2 separate regions of the Homo sapiens genome follow, and region 2 is linked to region 1. The links come from fine-mapping of genetic effects on gene expression. A gene starts in region 1. The other region holds a variant in brackets. All regions are shown on one strand. Distances are between the middles of the regions.

Region 1 (5,363 bases):
CCAGGTTTGGCCAATGACAGCAGTCTAATTTGATATCATTTCTGATGCCTGTTGCCAGGACTATGCTTAATACATGTACAATATTTTCCACTGAAAGCTTAAGGGACATTTCAAGGTCATAGCAAGTCATTCACATAGCCAAGATCTCCGGATGTCTTCTCATTTTGTAGTGGGGAAAGAGATACCAACAGATAATTTCGGTGATACATTAAGGGCATACATTCATTCAACAAATATTCACTACTAGAAACCTGGTTCCGTGGTGGGTGTTCAGGATGGAATTATGAATGAAACAGTCATGATCTCTGGATGTCCCATGATGTTCTGAAAGGTGCAGCATGTGTGAGAGTGCACAGGAGGGCCATGTAAACTACCCTGGATATATGTTTGTGGGTATCCAGAAAGGCTTCCCAGAGAAAGAAACCAGCCTCCTAAATCTCTCTGAATCTATCCTCCTTTAATTTTCTTCCTCATCCTCACAGCTACTGTCTCAGTTCAGGCCCTCTTTATTTCACATCTGAATTACAGCAATAACTTTCCAACTGCACACCACCACACCCCTACTCTTACCCTATTTTTACCCAACTCACTCTTTACTAATGACAGAATGATTTTTTCTTAGAAACTTTTTTCTAAAGTATAATGTCCACCCATAAAAGTACATATGTAAGCATACAGTTTGATGAACTTCCATAACCAAACACACCCATTAACCAGAGCCTACATTAACAGTCAGCATTCCGCAGCCCCCCCGTGTCCCCATCCATATACTCACCCTCCTTATACGTAATAAAAATAAGAATTCATTTTAAAAATGAATATCGCTTCCTTCCTTTGTTAAAGCCTTCCAAGGACTTTCTCGACAGCCTGCAGGATAAACACCATCTCCTTCGCCAAACTATACCCTAGTAATTCCTCGCCTACTGCCCCAGTCTTCCCTCCCTGGCCTCTGCAGTGCTGCTCCCTCTGTGGCAACTAACACCTCAGCCCTCTTCCTCTGCATTGTAATGATTCCTAATTATTCCAGGAGCCACCTCCTCAAAGCCTTCCATGATCCCTTCCCTCCCCACTATCTGTTTCTCTCGTAGATTTTTGAAGGTAGAAACCGTGTTTTGCATTTGTTTCCCAATTTGTTAAATGAACAAGTGAGTAAATTTATTAATTTCCCATAACTCCTTTCCTCCCTTTCCTTCTCCTCTACCCTACCAATGGCTCTTTTAAAATAAGAACAATCCAGTCCCCTGTGAATGTTTGTGCATGTATGAGATGCACAATGATCACGTATGACCTTCAACCAGCAATTTGCGAAGTCACGACTGGTTTCCATTCATCCAGACACACCTTACTACCTAGTATCCCCTCCTCCCACATCAAATAAGGGTATAGTAGGGGCAGTTTGTGGTCTCAACCCTACCGAGGTAAGAGGGCACAAAGAAAATTGATATGCATGAGACCTCGGGCATTCTTCAGGTAAAAAGATGGCTTAATTGGAACATTCGGAGGCTTAAGAGAAAATCGGGAGTGGTGGAAGGAAGCAATCAAGCAGGGTAATATTTCCCAAATGCCTACCGGCCACGTGCCAGACACAATGTTAGGCTCTATCTGTGATGTCTTATTTAACTGAAGAGGGAGAAGAATGTGAATAAATGGCTGGATTCTTGAATTGCATAAAAAGAGAAGCCAATACACTTTTTCCTTTATTTCGTTTAAACAAGTAATTTGTGCATTTATAGCTTTTTCTTTTAATTAAAAGTAAGAGTGGAAAAAAGTCACTGAAATGTCTAATTTCAAATAAAATATTTGATTTCTAATTTCTGTTTTTCAAACAAACAAAAAACCCCAGAAGCATTATGAAAGGTTTTACTGTGCAGGAGGAAATGTTACTAGGTTGATGGGCCTAGCCAGAACACCTAACATCCTCCATCTAGTCTCCAAACTGAGGCTGTGGCCCTGCAGAGAGCGCCACCCGGAAGCCACTTTTATAGAAGCTTTTACACACAATGCTTGATTTTTTTTTTTTTTTTTCCGAGACGGAGTCTCGCTTTGTCGCCCAGGCTGGAGTGCAGTGGCGCGATCTGGGCTCACTGCAAGCTCCGCCTCCTGGGTTGACGCCATTCTCCTGCCTCAGCTTCCCGAGTAGCTGGGACTACAGGCGCCCGCCACCAAGCCTGGCTAATTTTTTTTTATTTTTAGTGGAGACAGAGTTTCACCGTGTTAGCCAGGATGGTCTCGATCTCCTGACCTCGGGATCCGCCCGCCTCGGCCTCCCAAAGTGCTGGGAGTATAGGCGTGAGCCACCGCGCCTGGCCTATACTTGATTTTTAATGAAAACATTCTTAAATTCATATGGCTAACGCAAATTTATTTTCTGTAGGCATAACATCAAAAACACCTGGCAGGATTGCCCCATTCCCAGCACTGTCTATTTCTCCCCTAGTATCAGTGGGACTCCACTGATGCACAGCTGTGATCTACTAAAACTTCTCTCAAAACTTTCTCCTCTCCTTAGGTCAGCAGCCCCGCCCCTGATCTATTTGGAAATCCCCTGAATAAAAGTTGAATATCATAAACCAAAGCGAACACCCAGAAATTCAAATTCAACCCGTAGGTAAAAAATTTCTCAAGTGACTGTAGACGTAGATGTCTCCAGTGTCGCCTAATAAGGTAGAAGAGGCCAGTGCGATACTGTCTTTACACCCTTAACTTGGGTGCTAGAATATTTATCTTCGTCATCATTTTATCATCCAAACTATTTTGCATAACTTTCATGGGTGCAGAAAATGTTTTTTAAGTGCTTGGTAAAATTAATAGTGATATTCATTCATTCATCTCACTGAACAGGCAATAAATTCCTTGACGACAAGGGCCTTGGGGGGGTCACATCTTCATCTTTGGTTTATGAGTCCTGTGCGTCTTGGTACAAGCAATACTACTATGAGCCGGCAAGTCAGACTTATTTGGTAGGGGACCAAAGGAAAGAACATGTTTTGATTGCTAAGAAAACATTTTGTTCTCTATCCTTTACTGGGCTGGCAGGCAAAGGAAATGTTCTTATGAGCACTCACATTGAAAACTTAAGTTCTTCACCAAATGCAGAGACTCTGAAGGCCACGCCGCTGCGGGCTGCCTCCACAATTCGACCGTCTCGGCGGGCCACGAGATCCTGGCCACGGATGCGGTGGCCGCGCCTCTGCTCGCACGTTCCCCCGGCCTCTGGACTCCCTCCCTCCCTCAATCCCTCCCTCCGGCGGGCGTCGCTGGCGGGTGGCTAGGCCCAACGGCAGGAAGCCGACGCTATCCTCCGTTCCGCGGCGCCGGGTCCGCCTTCCGTCTGTTCTAGGGCCTGCTCCTGCGCGGCAGCTGCTTTAGAAGGTCTCGAGCCTCCTGTACCTTCCCAGGGATGAACCGGGCCTTCCCTCTGGAAGGCGAGGGTTCGGGCCACAGTGAGCGAGGGCCAGGGCGGTGGGCGCGCGCAGAGGGAAACCGGATCAGTTGAGAGAGAATCAAGAGTAGCGGATGAGGCGCTTGTGGGGCGCGGCCCGGAAGCCCTCGGGCGCGGGCTGGGAGAAGGAGTGGGCGGAGGCGCCGCAGGAGGCTCCCGGGGCCTGGTCGGGCCGGCTGGGCCCCGGGCGCAGTGGAAGAAAGGGACGGGCGGTGCCCGGTTGGGCGTCCTGGCCAGCTCACCTTGCCCTGGCGGCTCGCCCCGCCCGGCACTTGGGAGGAGCAGGGCAGGGCCCGCGGCCTTTGCATTCTGGGACCGCCCCCTTCCATTCCCGGGCCAGCGGCGAGCGGCAGCGACGGCTGGAGCCGCAGCTACAGCATGAGAGCCGGTGCCGCTCCTCCACGCCTGCGGACGCGTGGCGAGCGGAGGCAGCGCTGCCTGTTCGCGCCATGGGGGCACCGTGGGGCTCGCCGACGGCGGCGGCGGGCGGGCGGCGCGGGTGGCGCCGAGGCCGGGGGCTGCCATGGACCGTCTGTGTGCTGGCGGCCGCCGGCTTGACGTGTACGGCGCTGATCACCTACGCTTGCTGGGGGCAGCTGCCGCCGCTGCCCTGGGCGTCGCCAACCCCGTCGCGACCGGTGGGCGTGCTGCTGTGGTGGGAGCCCTTCGGGGGGCGCGATAGCGCCCCGAGGCCGCCCCCTGACTGCCGGCTGCGCTTCAACATCAGCGGCTGCCGCCTGCTCACCGACCGCGCGTCCTACGGAGAGGCTCAGGCCGTGCTTTTCCACCACCGCGACCTCGTGAAGGGGCCCCCCGACTGGCCCCCGCCCTGGGGCATCCAGGCGCACACTGCCGAGGAGGTGGATCTGCGCGTGTTGGACTACGAGGAGGCAGCGGCGGCGGCAGAAGCCCTGGCGACCTCCAGCCCCAGGCCCCCGGGCCAGCGCTGGGTTTGGATGAACTTCGAGTCGCCCTCGCACTCCCCGGGGCTGCGAAGCCTGGCAAGTAACCTCTTCAACTGGACGCTCTCCTACCGGGCGGACTCGGACGTCTTTGTGCCTTATGGCTACCTCTACCCCAGAAGCCACCCCGGCGACCCGCCCTCAGGCCTGGCCCCGCCACTGTCCAGGAAACAGGGGCTGGTGGCATGGGTGGTGAGCCACTGGGACGAGCGCCAGGCCCGGGTCCGCTACTACCACCAACTGAGCCAACATGTGACCGTGGACGTGTTCGGCCGGGGCGGGCCGGGGCAGCCGGTGCCCGAAATTGGGCTCCTGCACACAGTGGCCCGCTACAAGTTCTACCTGGCTTTCGAGAACTCGCAGCACCTGGATTATATCACCGAGAAGCTCTGGCGCAACGCGTTGCTCGCTGGGGCGGTGCCGGTGGTGCTGGGCCCAGACCGTGCCAACTACGAGCGCTTTGTGCCCCGCGGCGCCTTCATCCACGTGGACGACTTCCCAAGTGCCTCCTCCCTGGCCTCGTACCTGCTTTTCCTCGACCGCAACCCCGCGGTCTATCGCCGCTACTTCCACTGGCGCCGGAGCTACGCTGTCCACATCACCTCCTTCTGGGACGAGCCTTGGTGCCGGGTGTGCCAGGCTGTACAGAGGGCTGGGGACCGGCCCAAGAGCATACGGAACTTGGCCAGCTGGTTCGAGCGGTGAAGCCGCGCTCCCCTGGAAGCGACCCAGGGGAGGCCAAGTTGTCAGCTTTTTGATCCTCTACTGTGCATCTCCTTGACTGCCGCATCATGGGAGTAAGTTCTTCAAACACCCATTTTTGCTCTATGGGAAAAAAACGATTTACCAATTAATATTACTCAGCACAGAGATGGGGGCCCGGTTTCCATATTTTTTGCACAGCTAGCAATTGGGCTCCCTTTGCTGCTGATGGGCATCATTGTTTAGGGGTGAAGGAG
Region 2 (5,376 bases), 21 kb before region 1:
CTGGATTTATCTTCATTGTTTTAAAAATCTACATAAAAGCTAGTTTATACACTAGCTGTATGTTGTATTATTCTTATTGGATACACTAGATTGTGAGACAGTCTGAGTGAATAGGATGTATCTTTTGGTTTATAAAAATTCATTTTCCTAAGCAATCTTTTCAAATATCCTTTATATAAAATGAAGACTGTCTGGGCTGCTTTTTAAAATAACATCCACTAGAGGTCGCACAGAGGTACTATTTTAGCCTAGAAAAATCTTTCAATGCGGAGAATAGATTCTATAAATTTGGGTTTTAAAATGATCTACTTATGGGAAATCCCGCTGTTTTTAAAATATATATCATGGCTAGAAGCCACATACCATTGGCCAGAACAGAGAATTAGCATCTAGAGAGGGTGCCACACTCTTCCAGCCCAGCCTCAGAGCCTAGAGGCCAGCCATTGGACATTTGCTTCTAATTCGGTTTGCAGTGACCCCTCCTTTATATATCTGATGACAGCCATGGCTTCTTTTCCTGGAAGACACAGTTTGTCACATACGTGCAGAATTCTGCATAAAACTTTTAGAGAATTGTGTGGTTCCTATAGCTGCTATTTTTAAAGATAAGTACATGTTAACCATTTTCTCCTCCCCTTTACTTCTCCTTTGCTACTTCACCTATTCTAATTAGGCATTTGTTCCCATGAGTCCAGGGAAACTGTTCTTTCCAAGATTGCAAATAGCCTTCTTTTTGAAGGTCAAATCCAATGATCCCTCCAACATACTCAACCTCTCTGTAACATCTGATGTAGTTGTTTCCTCCTTCTCTCTAAAAACACTTTCTTAGCTTGGCCTGTAGGTCACAATGCTCCAATTTCCTGGTTTTGCTCCTACCTCTTTAGCTATTCTTTCTCCATCTTCTTTGCTGGCTCTCCCTCCACCTAGCCTGTATAATTTAGAGGTCTCAGTCATGGGCTCTTTTCTCTACCTACCCTCACACCGTGGGATATCTAGCCCTATTGGGCTAATGACTCCAGCATTTTTTATTTCTACCCTATACTTTTCCCCTTAAATCCCAAAACCTACTTGATTCTCCACTTGGATGTCCAATAGGCCTCTCAACCTTAAGATGTCCAGAACCAAAATCTTATTCTCTATTCCCAGGCTTTTAAAAAACCCATAGGTCTTTCCCATATCATGAGATGGTACCACCAAACACCTAGAAGTCAAGTCCTCAAACTCCGTATCCAGTCTATCAGCCAATCCTTTTGAATTCAGTGTATATCCTAAATCCCCCACCAGCACCGTTGCCAAGCCCCTGCCACCTTTTGCAGGCCTGGCAATAGCATCCTATAACAGCCTCTGCTACTGCCCCTGCTACTGTTAATTCTCTGCACTGAAACCGGAGGGATCTTTTACAAACATAAATCGTTACATGTCACCTCCATGCTTAAAGTTGTCTGATGGCTTTTTATTATTCTGAGACTAGATTTCATGCTCCTATGGCCAGCTCACCTCTCTGATCTCATCTCCTATACTTTTCCACTCCACTTTAACCACACAGGCTTTCTTGACATTCTGGAATGTGCCAAATCCATTTTCACCCCTCAGGACATTTAAAGGTCACCCAGACATTCAGATATCTTCCTCTCTCTTCATTCAGGCTTCAACTGCATATGCCATCTTCTCAGAGAGGCCTTTCCACTCCACCAGGTCAAAACAGAAATTGTCCTCCAGGTCACCTTCTAATCCCTATACTGCTTTCTTCTTTCTCCTGTTTTCTATTGCTACCTGAAATTTTATGCAGACAGTCCCCAACTTATTGTGGTTCAACTTATGATTTTTCAATGTGATGGTGTGAAAGTGATACATGTCAGTAGGAACCCTACTTCAAATTTTGAATGCTGCTCTTTTCCTGGGCTAGCGATCTGCCTTATGATTCTCCTTTGCAATGCTGGGCAGTGGCCATGAGCCGCAGCTTCTAGTTAGCCATTCTAATGTAAGTGTTCTGAGCACATTTAAGGTAGGCTAGGCGAAGCTATGATGTTTGGCAGGTTAGGTGTATGAAATGCATTTACTACTTACAATTTTTTTTCAACTTATGATAGGTTTTTCAGGATGTAACTCCGTCGTAAGTCGAGGAGGATCCATATTTCTTTACATACTTCTTTATTGGCTATCTCTCCCACTAGAACACAAGCTATCTGAGGA[T/C]AGGGGCTTAATTTTGCTTACCCCAAATCCTCACAAAGCTGTATGATATTGATATTCTGATCCCCATCTTAGGATGAGTAAACTAAGATTCTGAGAGGTGTTTAACTTGCCCAAGGTTATGCATTAAGTAGCAGAACCAGATCCAAATTCAGATCTGACCCCCAATCCCATTGGCTTTCTACTCACTATGGTGTCTCTGGTGACACGTTATGGCTAAATGCAGTGGATACTGTTCTGCCTCTAGGTGGCTTGAGCTTTCTGCAACATTTCACATAGTCGATGGCTCTCTCCTTCAACCTTGTTCCTTTCTCAAATTCCATGATACTTAACTGTCCTGGTTCTCGCTCTACTTCTTTCTCATCCTCTGTTAAGCACTCTTTTTATTCACTACATTCTCCGAATCTTGATGTTTATCGGAGTGTTTCCCACAGTCTTGTAATCTTGTTCCATTAGCTTTCCTGGGATTTTCTCATACTTTTCACTACGGCCTCTCTAGGATGCCTCTGAAATGTGTCTCTGCAGGCTAAACTTCTTTTCCTGGATGTCCCATAAGTCATAAGATAACTCAGGCCCAACATGTCCAAAACAAAACTCACACCTCTGGGCTGGGCATGGTGGCTCACGCCTGTAATCCCAGCACTTTAGGAGGCTGAGACGGGCGTATCACGAGGTCAGGAGATCGAGACCATCCTGGCTAACATGGTGAAACCTCGTCTCTACTAAACATACAAAAAAAATTAGCCGGGCGTGGTGGCGGGTGCCTGTAGTGCCAGCTACTCGGGAGACTGAGGCAGGAGAATGGCGTGAACCCGGGAGGTGGAGCTTGCAGTGAGCCGAGATCCGCCATTGCACTCCGGCCTGGGCAACAGAGTGAGACTCCGTCTCAAAACAAACAAACAAACAAACAAAACAATTGACACCTCTCCCCGACTTGCTGCTTCCCCTATACCACCCATCTCAATGAATGGCATAGCCTATGGTCCAAATGCAAATCCAGAGAGCCATCCTCTATCTCCACACCAGACCACCATGTTCCACATCGAATTAGACTGTGAGGGGTACCTTAGTTTGGCTCAAGATCCCAAAATGTTGACCCATATGCCAGGTTCACCTTGCAGACATATTTATTTGCCCCGCAGTATATTTTTTAAATATCTGAACCAGTTGTCAATATTTTAAAATTAGAAATTTTATATACAAATCTAGATGTCTAGGTTTTCTTGAGCAGGGATGGAGCACGGAGGATAAAGGTTGATTTGACACCATCAAGGCACCATTTGTATTAACAACAGTGGCTGGGGTTGGGTTACAATGCCCCGTGCTGACCTGCCCACTCCACTGTTCAGCATCCTACACCAAGTTCCCCACTCCAGTGGGAAACATCACAAGCTATGTATGTTCACGTGCCCGCTGCAGGTTTTTTCTTCTCATCGTGAAATACAAAAAATTGTTTCTCTTGTATGATGCCTCCATCAAAAGTAGTAAAAAAGAGAAAGACTGGGAGAACCAATTATTTCTTACCCCTAGCCAGCTTTACTCATATTACCTGCCTGGCCTCTTCCTATGTATATTTGAATTTGTGACTTTGGATAAACGCTACATACTGTTTTGTAGATATTCCCAAGCCTGTCTAAATTCTAGGGACCCCAACATATATGCATGGATCTAAGCATATTTGTAGCTATGTATGAATTAGCTGGGTTTGTTTGAATTTTAAGACAATCAACTCCACATACTCTGACAACAAAGTAATTGATTGTTGAAGGTGAGATTTCAGTAAGAGTCCAGATTGGATTTTCCTTAACCATAGATAAAATACTGCAATACTGGGCTATTTATTGAACTTATTGAAGAGTCTATTAAGAGGGCGATCTGTCCTGGAAGTAAACAACTTAAATTATAGCACGTTTTATTTTTGAATGAGTTGACAGTGACAATTATGGAAGTACCCTGAAGCTGTGGGGTCATTTCTGTGCTTTTTCTCTTCTCCTTTGGCTGAATGAAATTGGTAAAAAATCAAAAGATTCAGAAATTGAGTTTTATGGATGTTGAATAGAATGAACATTATATTTCTTTTGGGATACCGTTGGTTGCATAGCTAGCGGGACACAGGAGAAATAGTTGTTCAGACTGGGGCTCTTATCTGAATGAACTGTGCTACTTGTTCTTGTGGTCATATTGTGACTATAGTTAATAAGGGCTGTGAAGACACTGAAATGGACAAGGTGTCTCACGTGGTTGTTACTTTGCACTCTATACTTGGGTCTAGGGAATGCCATCAGTGACAATAGAAATAATGGGCTAACAGGCCTCTTGTCCTCCCTTCTGTGGACTTTTGATTCCTTGTAGGCTCCTGATGTGTTGATACATGGGCTGAGTTAGAAGCACTGGATGCTGGGTTGAGAGGTAGGGATGTCTTTTTATATGATGATGTTGATGTTGGGAATTATGGTGATAATAATAGTAATAATGGTTATCATTTGCAGAGTTTCTTCTGCACGTGATAAATTTTTTGCAAATAATCTCTTTTAATTCTTGCAATAACCCAGTGAGATATATGCTCTTTTAATTCACATTTTGAAGAACTTGAAGCTGAGGCTCAGGGGGATGCAGTGACTTGTCCAATGTCACACTGATACTTGGATGCAGGTTTGTCAGAAGCTGATGTTGTTGCTATTAGCCATTGGGTTCTTCTATCTCTCTTTAAAACATAAGATTATGCCTTCGGAGAGGAACAGAGATTTGAAATTGATTTAGTAGCAAGTAGTGTTCTATTCAGTTAAAAAAAAGAAATGTTACTAGTTTTCTGTAGGTTCAGTTTCAGTTTAGCCTCCAGGTTCAAATTTGAGGTAAAAACAGGTTTCAGAGGCTTTCTGCATTCCTATCAGATAAGGGCAAAGAACCTGTGTCTACTTGAAAAGGTTAACCTCATCCTGAAAAAAAAAAAAAAAAAGGGAGTGTAGTTTTCTCATCAGATCTTTTAATCAGATAGAATGGAATTTGGGCAACTTATAGAACTTTCTGGATAAGGAAGAATTTAGCTAATGTCCATCATTCATGTATTCTCAGTGATTTCCTGAAGATTTTCCTTTCTTTACAACTTTTCAAAAAGAAAAATGTAGAATTGGCTGAGCTCAGTAGCTCATGCCTGTAATCCCAACACTTTGGGAGGACAAGGCAGGC

Direction of the effects. Alleles are on the strand shown, and positions count from the first base shown. SD is a standard deviation of normalised expression in the study named.
For the expression in tibial nerve of the gene that starts at base 3,304 in region 1, C is the high allele of the variant in region 2 and T is the other (moderate effect, 0.53 SD a copy in GTEx).

What was found. PIP is the estimated chance that this variant, and not a neighbour inherited with it, causes the effect.
Region 2: its variant is the best candidate, but not a certain one, in a credible set for the expression of FUT4 in tibial nerve (GTEx, PIP 0.56).

Annotation. Positions count from the first base shown.
Region 1 is chr11:94,540,618-94,545,980 of GRCh38, forward strand. FUT4 (fucosyltransferase 4) reads left to right here and starts at 3,304. Exons shown (of 1, transcript NM_002033.4): 1 at 3,304-5,363. The coding sequence starts at 3,517. The coding sequence ends at 5,109. PIWIL4-AS1 (PIWIL4 antisense RNA 1) reads right to left here. Exons shown (of 5, transcript NR_135093.1): 5 at 4,715-5,229. RefSeq lists a silencer at 3,492-4,061 and an enhancer at 4,881-5,363.
Region 2 is chr11:94,519,458-94,524,833 of GRCh38, forward strand. The region is part of intron 2 of C11orf97 (chromosome 11 open reading frame 97); the gene reads left to right. Among named protein-coding and RNA genes, the nearest start is that of C11orf97, 9.7 kb to the left of the region's middle. The variant T/C (reference allele first, on the strand shown) is at 2,194.